Homo sapiens: one gene and its partners. The protein of the gene in region 5 interacts with the protein of the main gene of each other region in a biochemical or structural test. Each region holds a gene or a part of one and is shown on either strand. Other genes may lie near its edges. The genes, in order: ITK, SLC26A3, RRBP1, FKBP4, MPDZ, ARHGEF7 and NRXN3.

The links.
Region 1: the proteins of MPDZ (region 5) and ITK interact in a test that uses a peptide from one of them, tested with the Homo sapiens proteins (one large-scale study listed by IntAct).
Region 2: the proteins of MPDZ (region 5) and SLC26A3 interact in a test that uses a peptide from one of them, tested with the Homo sapiens proteins (one large-scale study listed by IntAct).
Region 3: the proteins of MPDZ (region 5) and RRBP1 interact in a test that uses a peptide from one of them, tested with the Homo sapiens proteins (one large-scale study listed by IntAct).
Region 4: the proteins of MPDZ (region 5) and FKBP4 interact in a test that uses a peptide from one of them, tested with the Homo sapiens proteins (one large-scale study listed by IntAct).
Region 6: the proteins of MPDZ (region 5) and ARHGEF7 interact in a test that uses a peptide from one of them, tested with the Homo sapiens proteins (one large-scale study listed by IntAct).
Region 7: the proteins of MPDZ (region 5) and NRXN3 interact in a test that uses a peptide from one of them, tested with the Homo sapiens proteins (one large-scale study listed by IntAct).

Annotation. Positions count from the first base shown.
Region 1 is NC_000005.10:157,243,124-157,247,290, forward strand, and holds part of ITK (tyrosine-protein kinase ITK/TSK), read left to right. Parts: intron 1-499; coding exon 500-671; intron 672-1,138; coding exon 1,139-1,355; intron 1,356-2,602; coding exon 2,603-2,667; intron 2,668-2,757; coding exon 2,758-2,876; intron 2,877-4,167. UniProt on the Homo sapiens protein: Tyrosine kinase that plays an essential role in regulation of the adaptive immune response. Regulates the development, function and differentiation of conventional T-cells and nonconventional NKT-cells.
Region 2 is NC_000007.14:107,799,907-107,804,763, reverse strand, and holds the start of SLC26A3 (chloride anion exchanger), read left to right. Parts: upstream 1-1,540; 5' UTR 1,541-1,653; intron 1,654-4,857. UniProt on the Homo sapiens protein: Mediates chloride-bicarbonate exchange with a chloride bicarbonate stoichiometry of 2:1 in the intestinal epithelia. Plays a role in the chloride and bicarbonate homeostasis during sperm epididymal maturation and capacitation.
Region 3 is NC_000020.11:17,619,483-17,623,649, forward strand, and holds part of RRBP1 (ribosome-binding protein 1), read right to left. Parts: intron 2,466-4,167; coding exon 2,373-2,465; intron 2,292-2,372; coding exon 2,208-2,291; intron 2,066-2,207; coding exon 1,976-2,065; intron 1,326-1,975; coding exon 1,233-1,325; intron 889-1,232; coding exon 817-888; intron 247-816; coding exon 151-246; intron 1-150. UniProt on the Homo sapiens protein: Acts as a ribosome receptor and mediates interaction between the ribosome and the endoplasmic reticulum membrane.
Region 4 is NC_000012.12:2,800,803-2,804,969, reverse strand, and holds part of FKBP4 (peptidyl-prolyl cis-trans isomerase FKBP4), read right to left. Parts: intron 3,854-4,167; coding exon 3,614-3,853; intron 1,820-3,613; coding exon 1,712-1,819; 3' UTR 1-1,711. UniProt on the Homo sapiens protein: Immunophilin protein with PPIase and co-chaperone activities. Component of steroid receptors heterocomplexes through interaction with heat-shock protein 90 (HSP90).
Region 5 is NC_000009.12:13,223,692-13,227,858, reverse strand, and holds part of MPDZ (multiple PDZ domain protein), read left to right. Parts: intron 1-3,275; coding exon 3,276-3,485; intron 3,486-4,148; coding exon 4,149-4,167. UniProt on the Homo sapiens protein: Member of the NMDAR signaling complex that may play a role in control of AMPAR potentiation and synaptic plasticity in excitatory synapses. Promotes clustering of HT2RC at the cell surface.
Region 6 is NC_000013.11:111,121,533-111,125,699, forward strand, and holds part of ARHGEF7 (rho guanine nucleotide exchange factor 7), read left to right. Parts: intron 1-4,167. UniProt on the Homo sapiens protein: Acts as a RAC1 guanine nucleotide exchange factor (GEF) and can induce membrane ruffling. Functions in cell migration, attachment and cell spreading. Promotes targeting of RAC1 to focal adhesions. May function as a positive regulator of apoptosis.
Region 7 is NC_000014.9:79,859,862-79,864,028, forward strand, and holds part of NRXN3 (neurexin 3), read left to right. Parts: intron 1-1,177; coding exon of another isoform or gene 1,178-1,480; coding exon 1,481-2,103; 3' UTR 2,104-4,167. UniProt on the Homo sapiens protein: Neuronal cell surface protein that may be involved in cell recognition and cell adhesion. May mediate intracellular signaling. Functions as part of a trans-synaptic complex by binding to cerebellins and postsynaptic GRID1.

The DNA of each region.
Region 1 (4,167 bases), on a different chromosome or scaffold from region 5:
TTAAACATTTCTTGAGAGCCTCCCATGTGCCAGACACTGTGCTAGCTTGTGCCTCTGCACAAATTCTCTTTAAATCTTTCTCTTTAACTGCCCCTCTGCCCCAGTAAGGCCTAATAGGGTTATGTGTATATAGCAGGTGCTCTTAATAGATGAATGAATGAAAGAATGATCAGCTCAATGAAATTTACTTAGTGTGAAAAATGACATAGAAAAATGGGACATTGCAAGAACCCTTTCTTTAATATTTTGATTAATATGGTTTCTTTAATATCTTCATTAATGCCACTCTCCTTCTTTCCATGTTACCTTCCCACACATATTTTCATAGTTTTCTAGCATATCCTATGTTATTATGTGGGAAAAAGATAATTTATTTGCCATCTTTGAATTATATTAACAATAGGCTAAAATTCTAGTTAGGGCTTTATAGTCCCCTGGTATCCCAATACCTTATATCTACTGCTTGCTGACCCCAGAGAACTCTCTCTCTCTCTTCCAGGGAAATGGGTGATCGACCCCTCAGAGCTCACTTTTGTGCAAGAGATTGGCAGTGGGCAATTTGGGTTGGTGCATCTGGGCTACTGGCTCAACAAGGACAAGGTGGCTATCAAAACCATTCGGGAAGGGGCTATGTCAGAAGAGGACTTCATAGAGGAGGCTGAAGTAATGATGTGAGTGCTCAGAACAAGGATATGCAGAAACTCTGGGGGGAACATCGGTTCAGTGTTCTTGAAATGCCATTCAAACGCCAGGGGGTACTATCTCCCTGCGCAAACTCCCAGCAGTGGCTTCCTATTGCACAGAGAATACAATCAAACTCTTCACAGTGGTCTCCAAGGCCCACCATAATCTGATCATGCCCACCTCCCCCTTCTCAGCTCCTACCCATCTCTCCTCCAGTCCATGACATGCCAGCCACACTGGCCTCTGCTCATCTTCACACACACAGCTGACTCCTTGCCATTTTTCAGGTCTCAGCTCCAATGACATGTTTTTGTTTTGGGGAGGGAATGAATATTATTTTCATCCAAACCATAAATTAGACAAAATGACCATTGGCTATTTTGGTACCATAATATTTTCGGCATTTTTGGGAGACTGAGTTTAGGCCATCTCACCCCTTGTCTTTTTCCTCCAGGAAACTCTCTCATCCCAAACTGGTGCAGCTGTATGGGGTGTGCCTGGAGCAGGCCCCCATCTGCCTGGTGTTTGAGTTCATGGAGCACGGCTGCCTGTCAGATTATCTACGCACCCAGCGGGGACTTTTTGCTGCAGAGACCCTGCTGGGCATGTGTCTGGATGTGTGTGAGGGCATGGCCTACCTGGAAGAGGCATGTGTCATCCACAGAGACTTGGTATGAGCATGCAGGGTGAACACCCACAGGTCCAGGGTAAAGGGACAGTTCTCACTGAAATGACTGGGAACGCATTAATAAATAATACATTACAGATAATCTCCTTTCCTTTCTCAACTTCTCCCTTCCTTCACCTACTTTGGGTGGTCCTAGTGGAAAGGGCTTCATGAGGACTTACTTCTGGGCTCTGATCCCAGCCCAAACTCTTTCACCTCCTGCATTTCAGTTTATATTCTTCCAAAATGGAGATAACTGCCACTCCTTCTTAACCTCTCTGTGACTCAATTTCCTCCTGGTAAATTGAGGAAACTGAGTTTGTCTGAAGGTATTATTCAAGGGTCTACCAGAATCACACTGGGGAAGCCCTTAAGCTACTCTCAGAATCTCTGGTGGCTGGGACTCAGGAATATTCATTTTAACACATTCCCCGTATGATTTGTATGCACATTAAAATTTGAGATATGCAGCTGGGTGCGGTGGCTCATGCCTGTACTCCCAGCACTTTGGGAGGCCGAGGTGGGCGAATCACGAGGTCAGGAGTTCGAGACCACCCTGGCCAACATGGTGAAACCCCATCTCTACTGAAAATTCAAAAAATTAGCTGAGCTTACTGGCGGGCACCTGTAACCCTAGCTACTTGGGAGGCTGAGGCAGGAGAATCACTTGAACCCAGGAGGCAGAGGTTGCAGTGAGCTGAGATCAAGCCACTACACTCCAGCCTGGGTGACACAGTAAGACTCCATCTAAAAAAAAAAAAAAAAAAAAAATTGAGACACACTGGAGTGTTATCTCCAATGGCTTTTTCAATGCAACAGTCTATAATACTAATTAGGGGTCAGGTACTCTCCCTATTGAAGAACAGTTTTAAGAGGATTAACAACATCAAAACATTCTTAATTTAGTCAACTGGGAGATGCTTTCTTCCTGTTATCCCTGATGTTAACATTTCCTATCACATCAGGTTGCATTAGAGCCTATCTTTGGTTAGACAACACCAAGGATTTCTAATTAGAACTCAAGAATGAAGATAAACTTACTCATCTTGATAGTGGATCTTACACATTCAACTTTCCAGTTAACTTCCAGCGGCATTTGTGAGGCTTAATTAACATTTGTAAAGCTCCATGATGCCCTTGTATGACAGCACTGCAGTAAAGCAAAGGACTGTGATTATAGGAGACTCCTTAACTACTGATGACTCATCAACAGTTTTCCTCTCCGCCTTTGTTTGCCTGTCTCCTCTCCAGGCTGCCAGAAATTGTTTGGTGGGAGAAAACCAAGTCATCAAGGTGTCTGACTTTGGGATGACAAGGTAAAAGAGGGATGTGGTGCCGGTGAAGTCTCAGGAATGGGACTGAGGCCCCCGGAACATTCTGACCTTCTCCCTCCACTCTCTTCCCAGGTTCGTTCTGGATGATCAGTACACCAGTTCCACAGGCACCAAATTCCCGGTGAAGTGGGCATCCCCAGAGGTTTTCTCTTTCAGTCGCTATAGCAGCAAGTCCGATGTGTGGTCATTTGGTGAGTGTCATGCTGGGCCCCACTGCCCCATGATCTGGGCTTCAGGCCAGCTGTTTCCTTTATCAAATGCAGACAACCCTACCCACACTGAACCCTGTATCATATCATGAGGGTGTCCCACTGGAGGGTTGTGTAAGAAAGGCCCCGAAAACTATGAAAGGGCCTTCATCATTTTGTTTGTTTTTAGAGATACTGGACATGGTGGTGGGAGTTAATTAAAAGTGGAAACAAGAGTTCTGGTGCCAGCTGCTGTGAAGTCAAAAGCTGGAGAAGTCAGGAGATTCAAATATGAGCCCCTTGAAGGCAGGGACCATGTTTTGTCCAACACTACATTTCCATACTTATCTCTCAATAAGTATTAATATTTATTCATTCATTCAACAACAATTAACTGATCATCTATTCTATGCCAAGGGCTAATCTAGGTGCTGAGGATGCAGTGGTTCATAGAACAGAAAAGACTTCTGTTCTTTTGGAACTAAATTTGAGATGGGAGGGGAGACAGAAAATCACAAAAGATCATAATAACAGTCATAAACAATAATAATAATAAACAAGCTAAGGGATAGAAGATAAAGCCAGGCAATCATAAGTAGGTGCTATGAATAAAATAAAACAGTAATGGGGCAGAGTGACTAGGATAGAGAGAGGGTCTGCTTTGAATAGTGTGGTGTGGGAAGGCCTTTCTCAGAAGGTAATTCTTCAGCAGAGACTTGAATGATAGGAGGGAGCTGTCACCATTTGAAGAGCCAGGGAACAGTGTCCCTGACAGAGGGACCAGCAAGTGCAAAAACTTGGTGCATCCAAAGAACAAGGGGTACTGACTTATTGGGAGAACAACAGGCAATGAAGCTGGTAGGCCATCATAAGGAATTAGAATTTCTAAAAAGTGCAAATGGCCATGAAGGGATGAATGATGTTGGTATTGCAGGATGTGCCAAATGTTCTTGCTGGATTTGCCATGTCACCTGAAGTCATAGTTTGTGCATACTAAAGTGTGCAAAAAAATATACCAGACAACCTCTTTGATTTGGATTACAAGAATTATACTGTGGACAGAAACTACTTGAAGATTGATTTTTGCCATTCGGTATGAAGGAAGGGTTTGACAAGGGCTTACTAGTAGTAGAAACCAGGGGGGAGTTTGGCTAGGTAAATCTTTTAGGAGAAGAATGAGTGTTAAAAATCTTCTGCAGCATTTTAGTCTATCCATCTCTAGGAGCCAAGTGGTTTGTTCATTATGAGTCCTACCTATTTCTTAAAACAGTACCCTATTAACCAACCCTTGCAG
Region 2 (4,857 bases), on a different chromosome or scaffold from region 5:
GTCTGCAAAGAGTGGGCAAATTTGGGACTACAGGAGGCCACCATGGTGGGAGTGGAGAAAACAAAAGTAAGAGCAGAGTCAGATGAGGTTGGAGAGTTGTGCAGGGGGAGATCATGCAAAGACTTTGGAGGCCTGTTTTCCCTCTGTGTAATCATCAGCCCCACAAAGAGGACTAGTGTGAAAAGATCATTCTGATTAATGAGTGGTAAAGAGATGGGGAGGGCTGCGAGAGGAAGCAAGAAGTGCAGCAAAGGTAAGAGTGAAGATGAAGAAAAGTGATGGCTTTGGGATGTATTTTGGAGGCATGCTCAATAGGGTTTAAGGATGGATTGGCTGCGGGTGGGGAGAAGGTCTGCAAGAAGAAGTGTCAGAGATGGTTCCCAGGTCTCTGACATGAGTAAAGGGGAATATTCTTTACTGAAATGGGGAAGACTAGAGATGGAGCAGATTTGGGAGGAAAGATCAAGAGGTCTTAATCTCGATATGTGTCGTGTTTGAGATGCCTATGAGGCATCCAAGCAAAGATGTGGAATAGGCAGTTAAATATGTGGACCTAGAGAGCTGGGGTTAGAAATCTGAATGTTGCTGGGAGCCATAGGACTCTTATTTAGGGTAAGAGGGTAGCAAGAGAGGAGAAGGAAATTCAGAACAGAATCTTAGGAAATGCCAAAGAAAGAGTTAGAGGAGAAATTGGCAAAAAGGATGAGGTGAAAAACAAGTGTGTTAAAAATTTTTTTTTAGCATTTCAAGAAGAGAAGATTTTAGCCCGGCATGATGGCTGAGGCCTCTAATCCCAGCTACTCAGGAGGTTAAAGCAGGAGGATCACTTCAGGCCAGGAGTTTGAGACCAGCCCGGGCAACACAGCAATACCCCATCTCTAAAATTAACTAATTAGTTAAATAATTTTTAAAATAAAAAGAGGAGTTCATGAAAGTGTAGTCAGCAATGCCAAATGCTTTTAAGTAAGATGAGAGTTGAAAGTATTCATTGTGTTTAGCAACATAGGGTTTATTGCTCTTAGGAAGAGCTGTGGTGGGGGCAGAAATTGGAATGCAGATATGGCCTGTGGCTGGGAGTTGGGTGAGTGTTCCTAATGAGGGCCTTTATCATACCAGGAGTTAACCTATACACCACACTTCTGCAGCCCATGACAGATTCCATGGAGTCATCCAGCCAAAAAACACCACCACTAAACTCTCATCTAAACAGGTTGGTGAAATGTCAAGGAGATAACCCTTGAGAAGATTCTTTTTTTTTTTAAGTACACGTGAGCATCTGCTGTGCAATCTCTGCAAACCAATGAAATTACGTACACACAAGTGCATTAAACCACCCACTGGTGGTTTAATCTCACAAGGAACTTGAGGAAGCAATCTTCATCATCACTTCTGCTGATCAAAGTCTCAAAGGTCAAGACCACATTGCAGTCTTTTCATTGTTGTAAAAGTTAATGAGAGTTAATTATTAAAGCTGACAGAAAGGTAATTTGTCCACTGTCTTACATAGCCTATATATAGACATCCCTATGCATATGGATGCACACAGAGCCTGTAGACCTGAGTGGATGGACACTGCCTCTTAGAACTAGAACTTAGAACTTTATCTTGAAAATGTACCACTGTTGCAGAAGCTCCTCACAGAGTATGTGTCAGGTAGGAACCAAATTTATGATTGTTATATTCAAACTGGTTTTCTGTTCCTTGAAAATGGTATTTTTTCTGATCAAAGCCTATTTAGGAGTTATTATGTTCTTGAGTTTATTCCATGTGTGTGAATATTTTGAATGAATCCACTAATAAGATATGCATGTATGTCTGGAGCGCTAGCAATGTAGAATAAATATTTAAGTAGACTTTAACAAGTAAATGGTTGTAGGCATCATTAAGTCTTAAATAGCCTTTTCAAAGATATTAGTGTTCTTGTTTTAATTATTCAGATAATTCCTTTAATTCTCCACTCAAATCTGACTTTATAGATAGATTGTCTGCTCTGAGGGTTGGCAAAAAAAAAAAAAAAAAAAGCAAGCTTTAAGGAAAGAGTTTCTCCAGGAGAGAGAATCACCTACTAGAAAGGATTCAGAAAGGCCATCTGGTCCCAGCCAGGCATAGGGATATGTATCTATAGTCCTAGCTACTCAAGAGGCTAAAGCAGGAGGATAGCTTAGCCCAAGAGTTTGAGGTCAGCCTAGGCAACATGGCAAGACCTTGTCTCTTAAAAAAAAAGGGAGGGGGTAGGGGACATATGGTCTAGAAGTGAGAGATTTATCTGCTAGACATCCTAGAAAGTCCAAGACTAAGGGAAACACGGAGAGAAGAAAAGGCAATGAGAGTAAGAAGGATAGAGACTGGAAAGAGAAGAGAGATGGGGAGAAAATGGTCACTGGAAAGTAGCAGAATGCCCTATGCCACAAGTAGTATAATATAATATAATACATTAGTAATGTATGGGTACTTATCCCATACATTACTAACTCTATCAAGATAAAATCTATTTTATTCTTTAAAATGTCAGGAAAAGATTATACAACTTTCTTTATATATGCAAGTGAGGAACAATTTATCAAATTATTGGACTAAATAATTCTCTTTTCTGAAGTAAGTTAGTCATTTGGAAAAACTGTGTCATGAAATTTGACTGCATAAAGATCATTCCTTTTTTTTTTTTTTTTTCTGAGACGGATTCTCACTCTGTCGCCCAGGCTGGAGTGCAGTGGCACAATCTCTGCTCACTGCAACCTCTGCCTCCCAGGTTCAAGTGATTATCCTGCCTCAGCCCCCCAAGTAGCTGATACTACAGGCACGCTCCACTGTGCCTGGCATTTTTTTTTTTTTTTTTTTGTATTTTCAGTAGAGACGGGGTTTCGCCATGTTGGCCAGGCTGGTCTCGAACTCCTGACCTCAGGTGATCCTCCCACCTCAGTCTCCCAAAGTGCTAGGATTACAGGCATGTGCCACCCCATCCGGCCAAGGATTATTCCTAATGAAAATTTAGGAAGCAACTAATTTGATTTCAGAAACAAGAAAAATGGGGTAACACAATACATACTTTGCCTTCTCCCTCTGGATAAGGGAATAAGTAAGTATATAAAGAAATGAACAAATGTTTAATACCTCCTAAACAGCTCATATTCGACTAAGAAACAAAATCGTTCAGAAAATGAGAATGAATATTTTTCAATTACAAGAATAAATATGTAATAACACAGTCTGGTGCTTCTCTACAATAAAGGTCTTTGATTCTCCAAAGAGAAGAGAAGAGGCTCCTCTAGCCTCTGTGTCACTTTGTTGAGAAGCAAGGGGAAGAATAAAGCAAGTCACCTCAAGGAGATTTGTCCCCAGGCCACCAGGCTCATGTTTTGTGTTGTGGATATTGAGTGTAGGAGTGTGAGGCTTTCATGCTCAAAAGCAAGGACCCTGATGGTGCCTCACCTTGTTCTTTTACCTTGTCTCTCTTGGGGGTAGGGGCTGAGACCCCTGACATTGAATATGTAGCAGAGAAGAAGACGTAGTGGAGAGAGTCAGTTATTCACTAGATGTGGCTTCTCATCCTGGCTCTGGGAAGTTGAGAAAGTCATTTATCTTCTCTCATCTCCATTTCTTCATCTGTAAATTAGCGACAATACAGCCTATCTTGTCTGCCTCCATCCACAGTAATACTCAAGGAAGAAAAGTGAAAGTGCTCAGAAAATCTCAAAGCCTTACAGAAATGGCCAGGGATTCTCTTTTGCCTGCTGTGAGCCTACTGGGTGTGAAATCCCTTGCTATGGTGCATCCCAACATTTCTCTAATGGTTTAGCCTATGGGCCAACAAAGCCTTCTGTTTCAGTGTTTGGAACTCTCAATAACCTTTCACATGATTTGCTTATTGCCCACTGCTTTGTCATCACCCCTGCCAAACCTATCTGTTCTTTAAAGTCTAACACAAGACTCACAGTTCCTTCACAAAACCTTCCTAACTCCAACCCACATTTACATCCCTTCTTCCAATTTATTATCTGCACCAATTATTTTGGGCACTTCTCCTGTGTATGTAAACTTTGGAGTTTAGGTCTACGTCATTTATATATCTTTTGCTCATAGTTCAGTTTATTTCAACAAACTTTCTTGTATACTTACTATGTCATAGGACCTAACAAAAGAGGGAAAAATGGTTAAGATTTGGGCCTTGCCCTTGGGAAACTCAGTCTTAAAGGGAACAGAAACATAAACAAATAATGTATGACATGGAATAGACATATATACAAGGTACTTACAAGAAGGAAATGATCAACTCTATCTAGGGATTCCATGAAGGCTTTACATCATTTTCTTATCTTCTACAACTGTGTTAGGAACTGAGTTCCTGACAAATAATAGGCTGATACATGTTTGTTGAAGGAATGAAGAAATGAATCAATGGTCAGCTGAGTTGTGTTTTGTTTGTTTGTTTGTTTTAGAGACAGGGTTTCTTTATATTGGCCAGGCTGGTCTTGAACTCCTGGCCTCAAGCAATCTCCCCACTTCAGTCTCCCAACGTGCCAAAATTACAGGCATGAGCCACTGCACCCAGCTGTGCTGAGTATTTTTAAGAATGAATTGGAATCTACCAGGTATTGGAGAAGAAGAACACAAAGGAAATCATGTGTACAGAGATACGGAACTGTTAAATATCATAGCGTGTTAGGAACCTGCTGCAATTGTGAAGGAGGAGTGAAGAAGCTTGTGAGATAGACCAGAGCCAAAACATGAAGGACCTTGTATGTCATTCTAGGAAGCTCGGATAGCTAGATTATTTTAAAACTATGTTAAAACAAACTGGGATAAAAATGGAAAACTGCTACTTCTAAAGATAAGCTCAGAGTAAACATAAAGTCATAG
Region 3 (4,167 bases), on a different chromosome or scaffold from region 5:
GGGCCTGTGAGGCTTCGGGCAAACGCCTGAGGACTCGGACTTCAAGGCTTATGTCACCGAGAGCTGCTCCCACAGGGCTGAGGAGAAGCAGCTCAGGGAGGACCGCAGATCTGCTGGGCAGGGGCTGCACTCCTTGGGGGGCAGACTCACCCCTGCCACCTCCTTGGCGTAGTTCTGGCACTCGGCGCTGGCGGCCGCCATGTGCTTTTCCAGCTCTGCCTCCAAATGCGACGTGTGCTCCCTCACCTGGACAGATGCACAGACACGCACACGCATGCGCCAGCAGCCTCTGCTCAAAGGGCACTCACCTCAGGGAGCAGGCTGGCCCTGGGATAGGTGAGGCCTCTCGGGAGATCCCTGAGGCCCACCAGCTACCAAGCAAACGAGAAACTAGTCCGCGGCAAGAGAACCCCTTACGGAAAGTGGCAGGCTGCACCCGGGCACTCCTGGGGACTGACATGCTCTTAGATTTACTTGCAAAAGCAGGTACCAAGGGTACCTTCTCCAGGGCTCCCTGTGGCGTCTGAAGGGGGCAGTGGGGCCACCTTGACTGTGAAGGCCGTGGCAGAAGCCCTGTTCACCAGGGCTGGGCAGGTCTGCACAGGGCCCGTGGCTGGGTCTCAGGGTCCTCTGAGGTAGTCAATGTCTCTCATTAAGGAAAAACAGGATGGACAAGATCCCTTGGCTTGAGAGAGAATGCCTCTCTTAAGGCACACGGTCCATGAGGAAGAAATCAGTGAAGTGTCCTCTGCATTAACGTCACTTTCAAAGAGGCTCCCGGGACAAGAGAAAGAGTTCTCTGAGCAGAGCACATACCTGGTCCGAACTTTCAAGTTCTCCTTTTAGCTTCTCTACAATCTCTTCGAGATGCTTCACTGTGACCCGGGACTACAAAGCAAGGGGAAGGCTCCGTCAGACACGAGCACCTGGGGGTGTCTCCTTCCGAGGCCATGCTAGGACCCGAGCGGGACTGACCCAACTTAGGAAGCCCCGGGGGTGCCCACTCCGCCCAGCTGGGACGGTCACCCTGGCGCCATCTGGCAGTGTCTTCCTAGGCGGGGGCCTCCTGGAGGACGGACTGAGCTGTCATCCCGCAACTGTGCTTCATAGGGTGTCGTGGAAAAGCCCCACCGAGACACACGAGTCTCACAGGTGACAGAGACAATCCTGTCAACTCTCCCCTGGGCTTCATGTGCTCCACGGCGCCGGGAGGCAGGCAGGGCTGCATATACCTTCTGGAGCTCCTCCTCTGCGGCGCCCACCTTGGCCCTCCACACCTGCTCCTCCTCCTCCACGCTCTTCTGCAGGTCTCTGAGCATGCCCTCCTGGGGGGAAACCGAGGTGAGGCAGGGCCCTCTCCCTCCCGAGACCCGCACCACACAACCGCATCTTCCTGTCCCTGCAGCCCTGGTGACCTGCCGTGCTCCGCCTGCTGACTTCATGAGCGCCAGCGTTAGGTGGGGAGGGAAGGCAACCACTGTCCTGGGAGGGAGGTCCTCTGGCCAGTGGGCCAGTGTGGCTGCAGTGCCAGGCAAGGAAATGAGGTCTGTGACCTGCACAGGACCACTAGGATGCTTGTTACTGCCGGGGTTTGCCACCAGCACCAAGTGTGTCAATGGCCCAGGACGAGGAGCACAGGATGGGCTGGCCAGAGAGTGGCAGGGCTAGACCTGGCATTGCTCTTAGTCACAAACGGGGTTCAACCTGGCAGTCACCAGCTGCTTACCCCGTCCTTCCCCTTCCCCAGCTTAGAGACCGGCCCCGAACCTTCAACTTGGCCTTCTCTTCAGCTTAGAAACAATGACGACCTCAGAGGGTGCCATCCATTTACCATGCAGCCGAAGAACGGGGCCCAGAGTCACAAGGCCAGTGGGCTTTTCCAAAACACCAGGCCACCTCCTGCCCCATAGGCCCCGAAGCTCTCCTTCCCTGCAGCCTCCCAGGGATGCCCAGCTGACAGGTTCCCAATGCTCACCGTCTCCGCCAGGATGCTGCGGTACTGGTCACACTCGGCCTGCAGTGTGCTCTGCGTCTCCTCGGCCTCCCTCAACTTGGAGGCCAGGTCCTGAGAGAGGGAAGAACAGGTGTTTAGTTAGCCACACACAAAGGTTCTTCTCTTGGCTTCCCGTTGAAATGACTTGGGGCAGCCCCTCTTCCTGGGGACAGGGGAGCCCAACAGAGGAGCCTTGCCAGGCAGCCACACTTACCGAGGAGGGCTCCGCGGGAGCTGGCGGGTGCTTCAGCAGCGTGGGGCCTTTCTCTTTGAGATCCTGCAGCCACTCGGTGTAATTCTGCAATGAAACACATTCGGTGAGACCCGGGGACATTCCCTGAGAACTGTGAGGTCCCCGGGAACCACCCTCCCCTCCTACCTGTTGTGCCAAGACAGAGAGTTCTGGGAGCAGAGCCAGCAGGGCCTCCATGGTCTGCGCCTCAATCAGACAGAGCTGCTTCTCCGATTCCTCCTGGGGGGTGGGTGGGGAAGAGCGGAAGGTGTTCAGCTGTGGAGGTGTGGGGCACCTCCCCAGGTCTTTACTGATATGCCCGGGTCTCTGCCCCAGAAAGGGCACATCCTCAGCTCTTCAGGGAAGCGACAAGAATCAAAGGAGAAGATGAGGCTCCATGGGGCTGACTGTAAGCAGAGGGGTTACCCAGCCTGTATCTGGTCCATTTCAAACAGACTAAGCTCTGATGAAAGGAGCATACTGGGTCAGGCCAAGATGGCAGGTGCCAGCTCCCGGGACATCTCCCAGCAGGGACAGTCTCCACCAGCTCTCACTTCCCGAGCTCTCTGGGCATGTGTGCATGTGTGGGGGAATTTGGGGGGTCCGCAGTTGATGTGTGAGAGCCAGGGCAGGAAGAAGGGATGGGAGGACACTCATGGCCCCCAATGTTTTGGAATCTAGAGCTGTGATGGGGATGGGGGTGAAGGCAGGGAAGCAGTGCGTCTGCTGGCGGCACCACGGTTAGGGGCTAGTGGCAGCCAGGAAGGGGCAACCCAGAGAGGCTCATCTCCAGCCACCCTGGAGAGGGTGGATCAGCATTCCCCCTCTGCAGAGGGAGAAGCCCACTCAGAGGAGACAGGGACTTTGCACCCTGTGCCATGCTGGGTCGGACACCCCCTCAGTCCTCAACGAAGAGCCAGCGGCCCCCATTCAAAGCACAACAAAGATAAGGAAACAAAAGGAAACAAAGGGGGCCCAAGGGAATCATGAAGCAAAGCCTAGGACCACAGTGTCCCCCGGGAGAGAGCTGGGCTCTCCCACACCCCGAGGGGAAGGCTGCTGGGGTAACAGCCTGTGTCTGGCCCTGCCACCACCTGGACAGGCCTGGCCTAAGACCCAGGGAGGCCCCAGGAACTCCACCTGGATCAGAGCTGATGGAGTGTTAACTCCCCCAAGCAGAGTCCTGGAATGTGCATGAAGGATGCTGACCACCGGACACCCAGCCTGAGCGCAGCGCCCTCTGGCCTGACGCACACCTGAGAAGCGGGCCCTTCCTGGCTGGCCAAGTTATCCACAGGTAGGGCCCGTGACCCATGTGGACCCTTGACCTCACGACCACCACTGAGGCCTCTAGTTGTGAGTCAAGGCAAGCTGGAGACCCAGAGGCCACCTTCTATCTGGATGTGTGACCACAATCAAGTCAGGTGACATCTCTGGTCACAGCTTCATTTACCACATGGTAGCCAGACAGTCTCTGAGGTCACTGGGGGCTACAAGGCCAAGATTCTAGGAGTCTAACTATAGCTCTCACAGGGTGGCCTGAGGCCATCCTTCACCTCCTGCCCTAGCTAGTTGTCCTCATCTGATACAACCCTCAGGCTTCCTGGGAATCACCGCAAAGCTCCTGCCATTGGGGCAGATATTCCTGTGAGAGAGGCTGGGAGTGGAGGCCCTTTCATGAGGTAGGAAAACGTGTGTGACCTCAAAGTGTGGGCAGGGCCTTTAGTTGCAGCTGCTGCTGGCCATGTCCCCTGGCCAGAGCCTCCTCACTGGCTCCTGGACAGCCCAGCACCCCAAAAGCAACCCGTGGGCTCAGACACTGGGAGACACCTGCACACGCCCCACCTGGACAGCATGGAGCGCAGGGCCAACGCGGCCTCTGTTCCCCGAGTGCTCGCTGCAAACAATGTCCTCCCCTCTGTGACTTAAAGACTCCTCATGG
Region 4 (4,167 bases), on a different chromosome or scaffold from region 5:
CTGTGATGTGAGGTAAGCCCAGTAAGAAAGCAGTTACACAGGGACTTTTTTAAAAAAGAGATGGTCTCACTCTCTTGCCCAGGCTGGCGTGCAGTGGCACAGTCACAGTTCTCTGCATCCTTGGTGTCTTGGGCTCAAGGGATACTCACACTGGGAGACTTGTACACCCCAATTTTAATCCTGGCTCCAGCATCAGCTGTGTTGTATGACTTGGTGAAAATTTTCACACAGAAATACATCTTCCACCATTATACATTTCTTCTGGAAGGAACTATACAGGCATGTGGCTAAGCAGACAACCACATCGCTGTTGGGAAAGGACTGGAGAGCTCACAGTAGGAGAGAGGGATGAGGGCAGACACGGGCTCTGGCCTGGAGCCAGGATTATCTGGAGGCAGCTCAGCATGACTGGCTTGTGCTGCCTGGCTTCTCCCAGGGCCCCATCATGCCATAGGAGTTAAGGGTCAAAGCATAGTTAGAAAAAAAGCACAAGCCTTTTCCTGTTAAGGCTGAGAAGGAAGCTGGACGTGAACACTCTGCTTTACTCTTAACCTTAATCATGTAAGTTATCTGACAGGAGGAGGTCAGTGACACCAGGAGTTTTACCTTGTTAACAAACCAAAATGCAGATACCTCTGCCAGATCAGAGGTAGGCAGAAGACCAATTCCAACTTCAAAATGAACATGCATGGTGTCCCAGTCTTCTAGATCTTTATACTTTCGTCTTCCTAAGTGTCAGGGAAGAAAACCAGAGGCACTAAAACTGCCAGGTTGCTGGAGGGAGGGAGTGCTGGGAACCTTGGGCGAAGCCATAGACACAAATCCCAGCGGCAGCCTGTGCAGTGCTCAGGAAGCCATGCATGGTGGGGCTGCTTCCTGCCCAACTATGGCATCTACATGAGATGCTCACTTATTTAAGCTCAACTGGAACTAAGTGGGTGACCCCTTGATTGTGCTACTACCCATTATGTACCCACCCATACCCACCACTCCAAGGCTGAACAGAAAGGGTTGTCTGACACCCAGGTTTTATTGTTTCCACTTTATTGCTCAAGCATGGAACTTGAGGCAAGCCTGGACCTTCAGCAACGTGCAGAGAAGAGGCTGAGGGGATTTTGGGACACAACCTGGCCGAGAGGGGAAACTGACAGGGGAAATACCAGAACAGGGAACAGGGGGTGGTCACCATGACACCAGAAGACATCATCAGCCACACCGTCGGGGGTGAGGAAGGGAACAGAGAGAAGAAATGGCATAGCAGTGGTTTTTCCCATGTCCCTAGCACCCACATGGAGGCCACATTTGGAAATGGACTGGGAGAGGGAAAGGATGAGGAAAACGGCTGCCCAGGAGTCTCCCTCTCCACCCTGGGTTCTTATCAGACCTCATCCCTACCACTTGCCTCTTCTACCCTTAGAAAATGGACCTAACAGAGGGAGCAAAATAAATTAACATTCTGATGAATATATATGGATGGACATATGTTCATGTGCAATGGAGGAAGGGAAGAGGGGCTGACACCAGCTAAAATGATTCCCCACCTCAATCCCCCAGCCTACACCTTTCCCCCTTCCCCTAAAGCCACCATCCAACCAGATAGAAAAATAAAGGTCTAATTCACTCAAAATTCTTCAGTTTTTACAAAACTAACAGGGTGGAGTGGGGAGACTGGGGGGCAGGCAGCCGCAGGAGTAGGGCTGGTGGAGAGGGGCTATGCTTCTGTCTCCACCTGAGACTGGCTCCCTGCCGTGTTGCTCTTCTGCTCCTCCTTCATCTCTGTGTCAGTGGGATGGTCTCCTGAGGAAGCCTCTGCCTTGGCCTGCAAGGAAGATGAACAGCAAACGGGCTGACTTCCCAAGTGAAAAAACACACACTTAATTTCCAGCAGAATTACACAGATACACCCATTCTCCTACATCTGTCCTAAAGCTATACCTGTATAGGCCAAGCCTGGTGGCTTATGCCTGTAATCCCAGCACTTTGGGAGGCTGAGGTGGTCAGATTGCTTGAGCCCAGAAGTTTGAGATCAGCCTGGGCAACATGGTGAAACCTCATCTCAACAAAAATTACAAAAATTACCTGGGCGTGGTGGCATGCACCTGTAGTCCCAGCTACTCGGGAGGCTGAGACAAGAGGATCACTTGAGCCCTGGAGGCAGAGGTTACAGTGAACTGAGACTGTGCCACTGCACTCCAGCCTGGGCGGCAGGGCAAGAGACACTGTCTCAAACAAAACAAAACAGAACACTTGTATATGTACAAATTATGAACTCATGAGGTTATTCACTGCAATGCTGTTCTAAGCAGCACTGTCCCGTATGGTAGCCACTACTGTAAGTGGCTAGTTCAAACTCGTGTTTTTAGTGCAAAATATACATTGGATTTTGAAGATGGTTTGAAAAATACACAAATGCAACTAAAATTTAATTCCATTTGTTTTTCACCTTTTTAACATGGTTACCAGAAAATTTTGAATTACATGTGGTTGATACTGTATTTCTACTGGACAGTGCTGGTTTAGAACACTGTTTAAGACTGGCTGGGTGTGGTGGCTCACACCTGTAATCCCACCACTTTGGGAGGCAGGGGTGGGCAGATCACTAAAGTCAGGAGTTCGAGAGCCTGGTCAACATGATGAAACTTCGTCTGTACTAAAAATACAAAAATTAGCCGGGTGTGGTGGCGGGCGCCTGTAATCCCAGCTACTCGGGAGGCCGAGGCAGGAGAATCGCTTGAACCCAGGAGGTGGAGTTTGCAGTGAGCCAAGATCATGCCATTGCACTCCAGCCTGGGCAACAAGAACGAAACTCTGTCTCAGAAAAAGAAAAAAAATAAAACCACTGGAAGACTAAAAAGGGACTGATTGACTAAGACAAGCCATATCCATACAATGGAATACAATGTAAGCCTAAGAAAGAATGTAAAAGTTCTTTAAATACGGATGTAAAATAAGCCTCCAGCTACTATTACGTGAAAAAAGCATAGTATGCGCCAAATCATAGGTGGAGCACGTTGCCTGTGTTAGGGGAAAGGGAGGAAGCAACAGGAACGTCTGCCTGTGCCTTGACGCAATACACTGGACCATCCAAGACCCTGAAGGGGCAGCTGCTTCTGGTGGGGGAGGCAGACTTGACTGTATACTTTGGTACAGTTTGAATTTAACTAAGTGTATTATTTATTTAATCACACACAAAAAGCATCTCGCTTTTCTTTTTTTGAGATGGGGTTTCATTTTGTCACTCAGGCTGGGGTGCAGTGGTGCCATCCTAAGTCACTGAGGTCTCTACCTACTGGGTTCAAGTGATCCTCCCACTTTGGCTCTGCAAAGTGCTGGGATTGCAGGTGTGAGCCACGGCGCCTGGCCCACAAGAAAACATAAATCGGGAATTACACTCAGGGCAACCAACCCAACTTCTGGGGCTTGTGGGTAGGTTTCCCGCACTGATCACAGAACACTGGCCCCAACAGCAGGAACACGTGCTCCTTAATGCTCCAGGGAAAAGGCAACTTCTGGTTTCCGGGATTGGCACAGACAACCAAAGGCACAAAGAGCCCACAGTAGCCAGGTTAAGTGGAGGGATGCTATTCCAACTGTTCCCCACCCCAATCCTCACCTTGTTCTCCTCCTCAGCCAGCCTCTCAAACATATTGGCATAGAGCTTCTTCTCCCGGGCAAGCTGCCTTCGGATCCGCTGCTGGCACACAGCCAGCTGGGTCTTGGCGGCTTTGTTGTTGGGGTAGAGCTGCAGGACCTTCTGGAAATCAGCCCGTGCCAGTTCAAAGTCATTCACGGCCAGGTGGGCCTCTCCCCGGCGGAAGAGGCCCTTCTCGTTGTTGCTGTCCAGTTCTAGGGCCTAAAGAATGCAGAGAGGAAGCCACATTGTGGGAGCTCAGGGCTTGTAGCTCATCTGGCCTAGACTGGGTTCCAAAGGTACCCCTCAGGAGGATGAGGAGGAATGCAAGTGGCTGGCTGCACCCCAGGAAGAACAAGGCCTGAGGCATTAAATGGAACAATCCAGGGACCTCATTTAATCCAACAGGCAGAGAGGGAAGACAGCAGGTCTTTGGATGAAATAAAGACTTCAGACATTAACATTCACTTTAGAATAAAGCAAGTAGGTAAGCGGAGAGGCTAAGAACCAAGGTGGAAGAAAACTCTTTATGTGAT
Region 5 (4,167 bases):
TAGTTTTTAAATATGTGATCTCTATAACCTCTGCTTTTACATTTATGTAGACCTCAAGGTCAGGGATGAAGCAGGAGGAGTCATTGACCTTCCTCAAACCTTTAACAAATTAGGAAATGACAATTGATATTAAATACTTTTATACAGTTCTCATTTTGTAATATTTTACTTGTTCTGCTCTCACTCACTTTACTCTTAGAATGCCTGTATACCTACTCTTTCATAATATCAGAGCTTCTCTTTTACCATGAATCTCTTACAGACAGACTCTCTATTCTCGGGATGCGATTTGTTCATTCTGGCTTACCATAGCATAAGTCCAAATATTTTTTCCTATGCAAACATACCATAGCCATTAGGTCTTGGTGTGTGGGATCCTCAGGCTGTCACAAATTTCATTATGCCATCTGCTTCAACCTGAGCTGCGTGTCTTCTGCTGGCAAACTTTATTGAAGTTGCCATGGCTCAGGATAAAAAAAAAATCAATCTTGGCATAAGAAGCTTACTTTTGAAAAAATAATAATTGATCATGCCTGCTATAGATTTTAAAATAAACATTTAAAAGGATTCCCAAAAGTCTCTTCTCAACACATTGATCTCTTTTTCATCTGTGATTGTAGAAAGCTAATATAATGGTTAAGTTATTGGTAACTTTGGTAACTTAATGAGTTTTCTGTTTTATTTTTAAGGATAGGTAACAAACTCTTATGTATAGATTTTGGTGACATATTGTGAAATATTTTGATAGCTTCTGTCAGTGGATGTTCTTTACCTAATGTTTTATTTTAAATGATATCTCAAATGTTTTGTGGATAATACAAGGACTGTATGTTTTCTGTATAATACAAGGATGATAGGAACACCGTGATGAAAAAAAATCTAGGTCACAAACAACTTAGCTGTGTGACTTTACGTAATTTCATCATCCTTAGCATTGAGATGATACTTGAAAGGTTGTTCAGGAGATTGGATCAGAGTTAGATCCTTAAAAAATAGATAAACATTTTTTTTCTGCCAATGTATGTTGAACAACTCTGTATAAGGCATTCTTCTAGAGAACGAGGGCATAGTAAAAATAAAATAGTCAAAAATTTCCACTGGAGAGTTTTTGCATTCTAGTCGGTCTCCACTGACTGGGATGAAAGCTTCATGACAGCAGGGTGTGGATCAGGTGGTAATGAGTGCCATGAATTAAAACAGGGCACAGTAAGTTCGTGGAGTATAATGGTGCTGTCTTAGATAGGAATGCGAAGGAGGACTTTTCTGTGGTGAGATTAGGCACACCTGAATGAAATAAGGAAGCATGTGGATATTTGGGGAAGAATATACCTGTTTGGTAGAGTGAACAGCTTGGCACTTTGAGGCACAGTGAGGAGGGGAGCACAGCTAGGGCTAAGTGGGTGAGGGACAGACTGCTAGGAGATGAGGTCAGAGAGTGACTCAAAAACATCAATGAAGTAAGCTTTCTGATAAGTAGTTACAGATAAAAAGTCACAATCCAGGCACCCAACATAAATATGAAATTAGGATTGACTGCATTGCTTTATTATTATTTAGATTTAACTTCAAACTCTTTTAAAAGGCACACACAAATAATTATAGAATCATTTCCCAAAGTGGGATGATCTTTTCCGTTGTTGTTACGTGTGTCATTGTACTTGGAGTTAGCCAGACAGCACGATTTGAGGGCACAGTCCTCCAGACTGCCAGTGCTGCCCCACACTTCTGATACCAACTGTGGCGAGTTAGGGTCCAGCTACAAAGTTAAAGGTATAAGGATACACAAAACCACCCTCACTTATGATGTCAGCTGCAAATTTGCGAGGTTCCCCTAGCCACCTTGAGGTTTCATAATTCACTAGAAGGTCTTAGAGAGTCTCTGAAATCTGTTAAACTCATGGTTATGATCTATGGTAGGGAAAGGATGCAGTCAAGAGTCAGCCAAAGGAAGAGATGCGTAGTGCAGATTATGGGAGGATTCCAAACTGGAAGCTTCCATTTTGCTGGGAAAGTATAACTCTCCCAGAATCGATGTGTGACAATATGTATAGAGTACAGCCATGTGTCATTAGGTGATTTCATCCTTGTGCAAACATCGTAGGGTATACTTACCCAAACCTTGGTGATATAGCCTACCACACAGCTAGGCTATTTGGTATTGCTCCTAGTCTACCAACCTGTACAGCATGTTACTATATGGAGTACTGTATGCAGTTGTAGCACAATGGTAATTGTCTGTGTTTCTAAATATAGAAAAGGTACAGTAAAAATGTGGTTAAAAGGTAAAAAATGGTACACCTGTATAGGAGACACGTACCATGAATGGAGCCTGCAGGACTGGAAGTTACTATAGGTGAATCAGTGAGTGAGTGGTGAGTGCATGTGAAGGCCTACGACATTACTGTACACTACTAGATAGTCAATATACTGTATGCTACTAGATAGCCAATATAATGGTTGAGTTATTGGTAACTTTGGTAACAATGAGTTTTCTGTTTTATTTTTAAGGACAGGTAAAAAACTCTTATGCATAGAGTTTATACATAAGTTATAAATACTGTACACCTAGGCTATAGTAAATTTACAAAAACTTCCTTCAATAATAAATTAACCTTAGCTTACTGTAACTTTTTTTTCCTTTATAAAGTCTTAATTTTTTTTTAAACTTTTGACTCTCATAATAGCACTTAGCTTAAAGCACAAACACATGTATAGCTGTGTTTGACTGTGTTGCAAACCCAGGAAGATTACCTGATCTTGGTGTTCAGCATTTTTTATTGGCGTGTTATTTCATAGGTGTGATTGATTGCCCTGCCTATATGATTAAAATTCAGCTCCGAGTTTGGGCTTATATCATGTGGCCTTGGGGCCCACCATGAAGAAGAAAGATACCTCATCACTCAGGAAATTCTGAGAGGGGAAATTCTGAGAGTTTAGAGGTTACTTCATAGGATCTGGGGACAGAAAAATATATGTGTGGATGTATATATTTATGGGTGTGTTTTAATGAGTACCCTGAAGTTGAACCCTGGCGGTAGTTTTTGAATTTTCCCATCTAATAAATGGTGCTGCATTGAACATTTAGTGATGCACACACATCTTTGTGTATTATCCTAATGTTCATCCTTGAAATAAATTTCCCAAAATAGAATTGCTGGATTAAAGGATTTGGACATTTTGAAATTTCATTTGTATGTCCTTGTACCCTTGGGATATTTTCTATGAAATAGTTTATGGAATGTCAAAATTCTTAATAATCCCTGCATTACTCTTAGGTAAATATTGCAACTTCAGCAACTTCAAATATTGAATATGCCCACGTTCCTCATCTCAGCCCAGCTGTGATTCCTACTCTGCAAAATGAATCGTTTTTATTATCCCCAAACAATGGGAATCTGGAAGCACTTACAGGACCTGGTATTCCACACATTAATGGGAAACCTGCTTGTGATGAATTTGATCAGCTTATCAAAAATATGGCCCAGGTAAGAACATTTCTTTCTGTTAGTTATTGTAATACCTGTAGTAATTTAAGAATGTGATCAAGTTATGGATAATTTGAAGAATATAGTGACATTTATAACATCTGAAAACATTGGAACAAAAAGTCAGTTTTGTGGGAGTTTAGATGGTTCAGACGTTTTCTATTACAGTTTTATCATCATTTAAATTTGAGTATTATATGTTGTATTATAGAAATATTCTTCAGGATAAAGTGCTAACAATTACCTTGGAAAAATGTTATTCAATTTCTTTTTTTTTTAACAAAGAAATGATTCTGATAAGATGACTGTTACTGCAGTAATTGGCTTTTAAGTTTTTTTTTGAGACATGCCTTGCTCTGTCACCCACACTGGAGTGCAGTGTTGTGATCATAGCTCACTACAGTCCCAAATTCCTGGGCTCAAGGGATTCTCCTGCCTCAGTCTCCTGAGTATCTGGGACTATAGATGTGTGCCACCACACTTACTAAGTTTTATTTTATTTTTTATAGAGATGGGGTCACATTATGTAGCCCAGTCTGGTCCCTAACTCCTGGCTTCAAGTGATCCTCCCACCTTGGCCTCCCAAAGTGCTGGGATTACAGGCGTGAACCACCATGCATGGCCTGGCTTTTAGTTTTATTTCTTGCTTTGTTTCCTAAACAGGGTCGCCATGTAGAAGTTT
Region 6 (4,167 bases), on a different chromosome or scaffold from region 5:
TGTTCTTGTGTAGGGTGGATTTTAGCCGTTTGGATTGGAGTCTTGTGTAGGCTTGACGCCCACGCGTCTCTCACTGCACGAGGGAGGTGGCAGAGGCACATCATCCCTTTGGGCACGCAACTCTACCACGTGCATCGCTGGGAGATGGGAGGACTGGCATCCCCCGAACCCACGGGTCCCTGCCTGGAGACACTGGGAGACCCGGTCCTCTGCGTGCTTCAGAGTCAGGCACACCTGGCTTTGTTCCCGCAGCCATTTGCTCTGTGACTTCCGGCACCTGTCTAACCTCTCGGAGTCCTAGTTTCTTCCTCCTAAAAATGAGATGAATGATATCCACTGGTGGGGGCAGTGAGGTCATTACCAGGGTAAATGAGTAGATGTGCTGGGCACAAAGTCATTCCTCAGTACGCAGTAGTTACTGTTTTGTTGATTGACACTGAAAACCTTCCCCATCGTGTCCAGAAGACTGTAAGCCAAGATTTGAACCTCAGAGCCATCCAAATCCAGGAACACGGGTTAATTCTCACAACAGGGCAGACTCTTGCAACTTTCGGGGGCTGGCAGCCTCTGCATCCCACTCTGGACAGACCACCATTGTCTGGGTTGGTGGGCCTGCTGAACGTGGCTTCCAGGGCCCTCTGGTCAGCGCCAGATCTGGGCGCAGCTGCTGAGTGCACACAGCTGCTGGTTGGGGAGCGGGAGGGCTGAGCGGGTGGACTCAGGTTTCGCTTATATAAAGTTTCATGCATCAGCAGGGCCGGGAGTCAGAGATGGGAAGTGAGGGCCAGCCTGCCCCACCTGGTGTCTGCAGAGAGAGGGCTTTGGGGCCGCCCCGGTCCGACTGCTTCCCGGGTACAGCTTCTGACTTCTCCCTCCTTTATCAGTTCTGTCAAGTTAGGGTAGGAGAATTAATCTCTTGATGTTTTTATATTTCTAACTTTAGCTTTGAATTTTTAAGGTTTGATGCACCAGGCTGGCAGTTCTCAACTCTGTTTTTGCAGGATGGTGTCATGTCTGCTGGGGTCTCAAGGCGAGGCGGTGAGGGGAACTGAAATGGAATGTGTGCACAGTGTATTTCAAACACATGTATGTGAATTCATTTAATCATCCCTTTTACCAGGTTCCTATTGTGTGCGTGCTAGTGACCCAATCACACGCATGGAAGCGCACGCATGGATGCCAGCCATACCACCTCTTCAGGCAGGTCAGAAGAGAAATGCTAGGATCTTGGGTATAAAGTATTTGTGAGTTCTCAGGATGAAGGAATGTAGAGTCATCCAGCCCAGACGCCTCCTTTTGCAGATGGCTTCACTGAGGGCACCTGCATGTGGTTGTGTAAGCTGTGTACTGCCCGGTCTTGGGAGAACCGTTCACACTGTAGTCTAAGCAAATGGCTCCAAGGCCTGTGCTGGGAGGCGGCCCTGGGATACTGTGTATAGAGGTCAGCCTCCCAGGACACAAAGCAGAGTGGAGAAGGGTTGGGGTAGACGATAGAAGTGGCCCCAATTCTCCAACCCTCCCATGCCCCTGGCAAAGTGACCTTGTAGCGCCTCCATCAAGAGGTAGGAGTCTGCTTCCTCACTTCTTGAATCTGAGCTGTGACTTGTTTTGGCCAATGGACTGTGGCAGAAGTGGCCAGTGTTAGTTCCTAGCCCAGGCCTTGGAAAGGCTTGCACTTTTCTGCACTCTCTCAGGCCCTGTGTCTACCTCCGAGGAGACCCCAGGGCTTGGGTGCTGGTGGGGTGTGATCACATGGAGGAGAACTCAGTTGTCCCTGCTAGGCCATCCTGGACCTATCCACAGCCAGCCAACCTCAAACATTGAAGAGAGCCCAGCCAGGGTCAGCAAGCTGCCTGCCCTGCCCAGAGCAGGCACAGCTGCACCAGCAGGCCCGGACCAGGCTGACTCAAGCCAGCCACTGAGGTTTACCATGGCCATAGATAACAAATCACACACACACACATACATGCCCGTGCCATTCTTAACTAGGGGACATGCCGATATATGTAAATACAGTCCATCCCAATCACAAGAGTGCTTGTACCTTTGTTTAAAATACCCTCTATATCCTTTATTTCCTTGATAATTTCCTCTCTAGTATTTTCTCTATTCTCATTTTTTAGAAATCTTATTAAGACTAATCAGAGATAATATCTATTGAGTGCATACTGTATGCCAGGCACTGTTCTAAGGACTTTGCCCATAATAATGGATTTAACCCTCCTCACCACCCTATAAGGGAGGTGGTGACAGGATCGCCCCCATTTTCAGATTAGGAAACGGAGCTCCAGAGCGGCTGGTAACTGGCCATCGTTGGCTGGTGGGCTGCGCCCCCCCCCCCCGGCCCCGCCCCCTGCCCCTGCGGCTGCCAGGCCTGCTGGGTTGAGTCTCTCATTTGCTGACCTTTCCACTTGTATGTTTCTTCTCCTTCTGAAAGACATTTCCTTGACTTTATCTCCCAACTTTTCTACTAACATTTTTTATTTTGACCTACTTTGGCTATTTTTTTTTTAATTTCTAAAAGTTCTTTTTTCTCGTTATCTGGTTTCTCTCTGTTTCTTCCCTTTCAGTCAGTCCCTTCCTGTTTCTGGGAAGATTCCTCTCTTCCTGTGAACATTCATTACAGTTTCCTTGAAGGGTGCTTCCTTCCCTGCATTCACTGTCTCTGTTTCCTCTGAGTCCTCTTATGCAATTCTTTTTTTCCATGTTGGAGATTTACTGAAACATCATGTGATCTTTCAAGTGTGAGGCCCTCAAAATGACCAGGAAGTCCTGTGTGACTGCTGGGGCCCAGGGACATGCAGGTCTCGCCATGGGGCAGCCTGGTGATGCCCAGAAGTCTGAACCTGTTGGTCTCTTCTCCAGCAGCCGTGAGTCTCTCCAGAGACTCCTCCATCTGCTGCCTATCAGAGCAGTGTCCATCCTCACCTTGGCTCCTGTCCATGCTGGCCCTCTCCATGTTCTGGCCTCTTTGGTTCACTTTTCCCCAGAGAATAAGCCTCGGACCCCTGCAAGGATGGCAAGAGGGGTGGCCAGCTGTGATGGGGCTGGGGCCCCTAGGCCTGCATCTGACTCTCAGACAGGTGGCTTGTCTACCACCTGGGAGGGTGCACTTGCCACTGGCTACTGGGATGGGACCTTCTAGTCTCTGCTGAAGCCCCACCCATCCTCCGTCTGCTCCCTGCCTTCATAATGGTGGCCTGGGGATAGGTGTCTTCTAGTTTTTTTTGTTTTGTTTTGTTTTTTAGACAGAATCTCACTCTGTCACCCAAGCTGGAGTCCAATGGCACGATCTCGGCTCACTCCAACGGCCGCCTCCCGGGTTCAAGTGATTCTCTTGCCCCCGCCTCTCGAGTAGCTGAGGCTACAGGTGTGCGCCACCATGCCCGGCTAATTTTTGTATTTTTAGTAGAGACAGGGTTTCACCATGTTGGCCAGGCTGGTCTCAAACTCCTAACCTCACGTGATCTGCCTACCTCGGCCTCCCAAAGTGCTGGGATTACAGGTGTGAGCCAGTGCGCCCAACCAGGTGTCTTCTAGTTTTATTGAAGATGATGCTTGTGTTTCTTGTTCTCCTGGCTGTTTTGGAGGGATTTTTTTTCAAGAGAAGTGAGGCTGAAATAATTTTACTGTACTGCTTTGGACCTGGAATCTTTCCATGATGAGAAAAAGAGAGAGAGTGAGAATATATGAATGAATATCCATGTCCTATGCCCTGGGTTTCATATCTCTTCTTCTGAGTACTTTAAAATTACTAGAGAAAACAAAACTGGAAGCTGGTTATTTGAAATGTTCTTTTTTTTCTTGTTGCTTGGTATTTTGTGCATAACTTTATTATTACACTTGGAGCAGCTTTTTTTTTTTTTAGGGGCTGGTGATCATCCTATCTTTTCTCTATAGAAGCTATATATAATTCAGAATCCCAAAAAGTGTATATAAAAGAAACGTAAGCCTCGTCCAGTTTATATTAAATTGCCTTTGTCTAAAATGGGCATCCACAGCTCCAAGTGTGTTTGGATTTGCGTGTTCTCTCGCCATGAAGCCTTGTTCTGACAGTGTGATCTATTAGCAACGCCTTTAAAGTGGCCTGGTTTTGATTATTTGTAAATATTATGGCCAGTGATGGCTTTTCTCCCTCAATTCTGAGTGTCTCACTACTAATTTCCT
Region 7 (4,167 bases), on a different chromosome or scaffold from region 5:
TTTTTAAGTGATAGTGGGAATACATTTTTCTGGAATATATTCAATAAAGAGACATGGACTATGACTTCTTAAGATTCTTCCTTTGCTTGGAAAACAACATTATAAAGACACTGAAGAGAGATCAGTTATCCTGCTGACATAGATGCATAGCAATCTTGGCCTTACAGTAGGGTAAGCAACCACTACTGCAGAATATTTGTGGTACCCATGATCTGCAAGGCCCTGTTATTTAATGAACTATTCTGAGCTTTCTTTCCCAACTTAGTCTGTATGATTCTAAGTGCAATAACGAGGGTCTATGGGTAAACAGATATGTTTTTGCCACACTAGTTAGCAATCACCAATTTAAAAAACTCACTTTGCTAAGTCAACATTTCTGAGTCTAACAGTTTCAAGTCATGGATATCTAGGCTGAGTATTTTGAAAATCTAGCTTCCAGCTCAGCATATATTGCATACAGCATGAAAGCAATGCATACAAATATTAGACTAATGCAAGGCAAGCTGTCATTTAATAGTCAGGGGGATTTCTGGAAAAGCATGGTCAAAATGGATTTGTTAGATGAATATTTTTAACTTTTTAAAAATCCCTATTGCTCAGCTTATAGTAAACAAGGACTGTGATTAATAAGTGTGAAATAAAAGGAAGTAACTTAAGAAAACACAAAAGACACAATCTTTTATGTTTCTTGATCTTGGTCTCAATAAGATGGTGAATCGGTCATTCTCATCCTCCTGGGAGCAAATGAGCAGAATCCCAAGAAGGCAATAAAGAAATCTTAAACGCATGTTAATAAATTCTTAAGTTAAGCACACAATGTGTGCGTGTACCCACACATGCCAATTTTGATAGCCAGCCAGTATTTATAACAGTATCATTGACTGAATGTCATCAGCCCATAAGCAGATCCTGGAAAGAACATATATAGTTGAATTTTATCTAAATAATTACTTGAGAGTATCTTTAAAAAATCTAAGCCCCTGATCTAGGGATTTCAGGTTTGGGTGGCAAGAGGCATACAGAAGGCTCCAAATCTGCCTAGAATGATTAGACTCCATCCAGAAAAGATCCAGATCTTTTTATTATAATTTCTGAGGCATAATCTGTGAATGACGTTGGTTGAGTGAGAGTTGTTTACAAATATACTAATTGTTTTTCTTTTTCTTTTCCATCCCAGGAGGTGAATTAGTTATCCCTCTTCTTGTAGAAGACCCTTTAGCTACCCCTCCTATTGCTACTCGTGCACCTTCCATTACACTCCCCCCTACCTTTCGCCCCCTCCTCACCATTATTGAGACCACCAAAGATTCCCTGTCCATGACCTCTGAGGCGGGGTTACCTTGCTTGTCGGACCAAGGCAGCGATGGTTGTGATGATGATGGCTTGGTGATATCTGGGTATGGCTCAGGGGAAACCTTTGACTCTAACCTGCCCCCTACTGATGATGAAGATTTTTACACCACCTTCTCCTTGGTAACAGATAAGAGTCTTTCCACTTCAATCTTCGAAGGTGGCTACAAAGCACATGCGCCCAAGTGGGAATCCAAGGACTTTAGACCTAACAAAGTCTCCGAAACTAGTAGGACTACTACCACATCTTTATCCCCTGAGCTGATCCGCTTCACAGCTTCCTCCTCGTCTGGGATGGTGCCCAAATTGCCAGCTGGCAAAATGAATAACCGTGATCTCAAACCCCAGCCTGATATAGTCTTGCTTCCGTTGCCCACTGCCTATGAGCTAGACAGCACCAAACTGAAGAGCCCACTAATTACTTCCCCCATGTTCCGTAATGTGCCCACAGCAAACCCCACGGAGCCGGGAATCAGACGGGTTCCGGGGGCCTCAGAGGTGATCCGGGAGTCGAGCAGCACAACAGGGATGGTCGTCGGCATTGTGGCTGCTGCCGCCCTCTGCATCTTGATCCTCCTGTACGCCATGTACAAGTACAGGAACAGGGACGAGGGGTCCTATCAAGTGGACGAGACGCGGAACTACATCAGCAACTCCGCCCAGAGCAACGGCACGCTCATGAAGGAGAAGCAGCAGAGCTCGAAGAGCGGCCACAAGAAACAGAAAAACAAGGACAGGGAGTATTACGTGTAAACATGCGAACACTGCTCACACGCGAGTTTTCACAGTTATTTCTATCCACGCCTATGAATCTTTGGACGGTGAGATCTCACAGATGTCAGAACTGCTGGAACTATGAAATGGGGTATATAACCACGACTCTGGTGGGGAAAACCGTTTTTTAAAGGACACACACACACACAGCGATGCATCTCTCTCTAAAGCTCAGCCACGGCTGCGGCAAGGTCCCAGCGGTCGCTGGGAGACAGAAGGTTTTGTGCCCTGCTGTATCATAAAGCACACACTTAGCGCTCTGGAGCCGGACGGTGGCTCCACCACTTCCGCAGGCCTGGAAACTTCCTTCTCCGGAGGACCTTTTACTAAAAGGTAGAAGACTTCATGGCTTACTTGTTCCATAACTCCAAGTGAGTCTGTAATGTTTGTGAAGCTTGACTGTAACCATGTTTTTTCTGTTTAATTATGTAAAAAACAAAACTACAACAACAAAAAAAGAAAAAAGTTAAAAAAGAAAAAAACACCAAAAAACAAAAACAAACAAAAAAAAAAACCCACAACCCTTATCTGGTTCTGACCAGTGTGCGTGTAACTTTATGATCTGAGGGGAAAAATGGCTTTTGGGTTTTTGTTTATTTTTTTGATAATGACTGGACATCAGAAGAGGAAAAAAACTCAAAACAAAAGCGAGAGAGACTATTGCCATATGAACTCAAAAGCTATCATGGTGTTCACTCTACATATCAGGTTATGGTGTCTCTAGAATCTGTTGTTTGTTTCCTATAAGATGCTTTGCTGAACACATAGCAAAATTCATGTGACGGATGATAAATTGATTCGAAAAGCTGGTCCCCCAGGATCTAATTTCAGAATTTACCACCCAAACCCGGAACAGATGGGTTTAGGGCTGGTGTTATCAGAGCTATTGGCTTTACGTAACAATATTGTTCCTGTCCATTCACCCAGCCAAATTGTGTTAAAGAGGAAAGCCCCACAAACTAAAACAGCCTTTCCTAGGGAAGAGGAAGGGGAGGTGGGCTGGATCTGTGACTGATTGAAATGCATGCAAATAAAAAAGACAATATTAAAGTCTGTTATCAAACCAGACAGTAGGGGAGTTCAACTCGTGATGGAACCACAAAAGGTCACACAAGCCAACCATGTCATGCCAGAGTACAAAACACATAGTTCTTTCCCCGCCCCGAATGTGACAATGGTTTTCATAGTGGTTTAATTTTGTAGCCTGACATTTATGGATAACTCTGTCCTTCCATTTGCTCACTTCTCTCTTCACCCATCTTTTTTAAAAACAAATAAATGAATAAAGCTGCTGTGACACACACACAAAAGGAATTTAATAGTATAATATATATATAAATAAATATATATACAGATATATTTATCATGGTATGTTTGATGGGATGACTGACACAGGAAATCTGTTAAAGTCTTAAAATGGAATGAGAATGTTGTTTTAAAAGAAAATAGCAAAACAACAAAAAAGCAAACCTTAAAATGTGAAGAAAGTGTGAATTTTAGTTTTGTCACAGTTAACTGTGTCAAAGAGAATTAAAAAAAAAAACTTCAGATTTTGTTTACATATTTTACTACATTTTTGCTGGTATAATTCCTTAGCCACCTATGTACATACTGCTTTAAGAAATGTTTTTTTCCTGTTTATTTCTGTTTGGTTTATATTCTGGTTGTCTTTTTCTTTTTGTAAAGAGGAAACAATGTACAGAAAAACAATAAACTGGTTGTATGGCCATAGCTATCCGAAAAGCAAGAGACAAAGCAAGACAAATATTCACACAAAAATGAAGTGTGTCCTCTGGAGGGTCAGATATACAATTTCTTTTGTACAGATGAAAATCAATCAGCTGCTTAGATTTAGAAATCTACTCTTGCTGGTCTTTGTAAGTTGCATGAATATTTGACTTTGAAAAAATATCTTAACGACATGGGGCAAAAAGTGCAATCTAAATGGTAGCCTTTACTAATGTGTGTGGAAAGAGGTGTTCCTCATTATCTAATATTTCAATGTGTTAAGAGTTTAATTTTTTTGTTATCATTAAAAAAGAC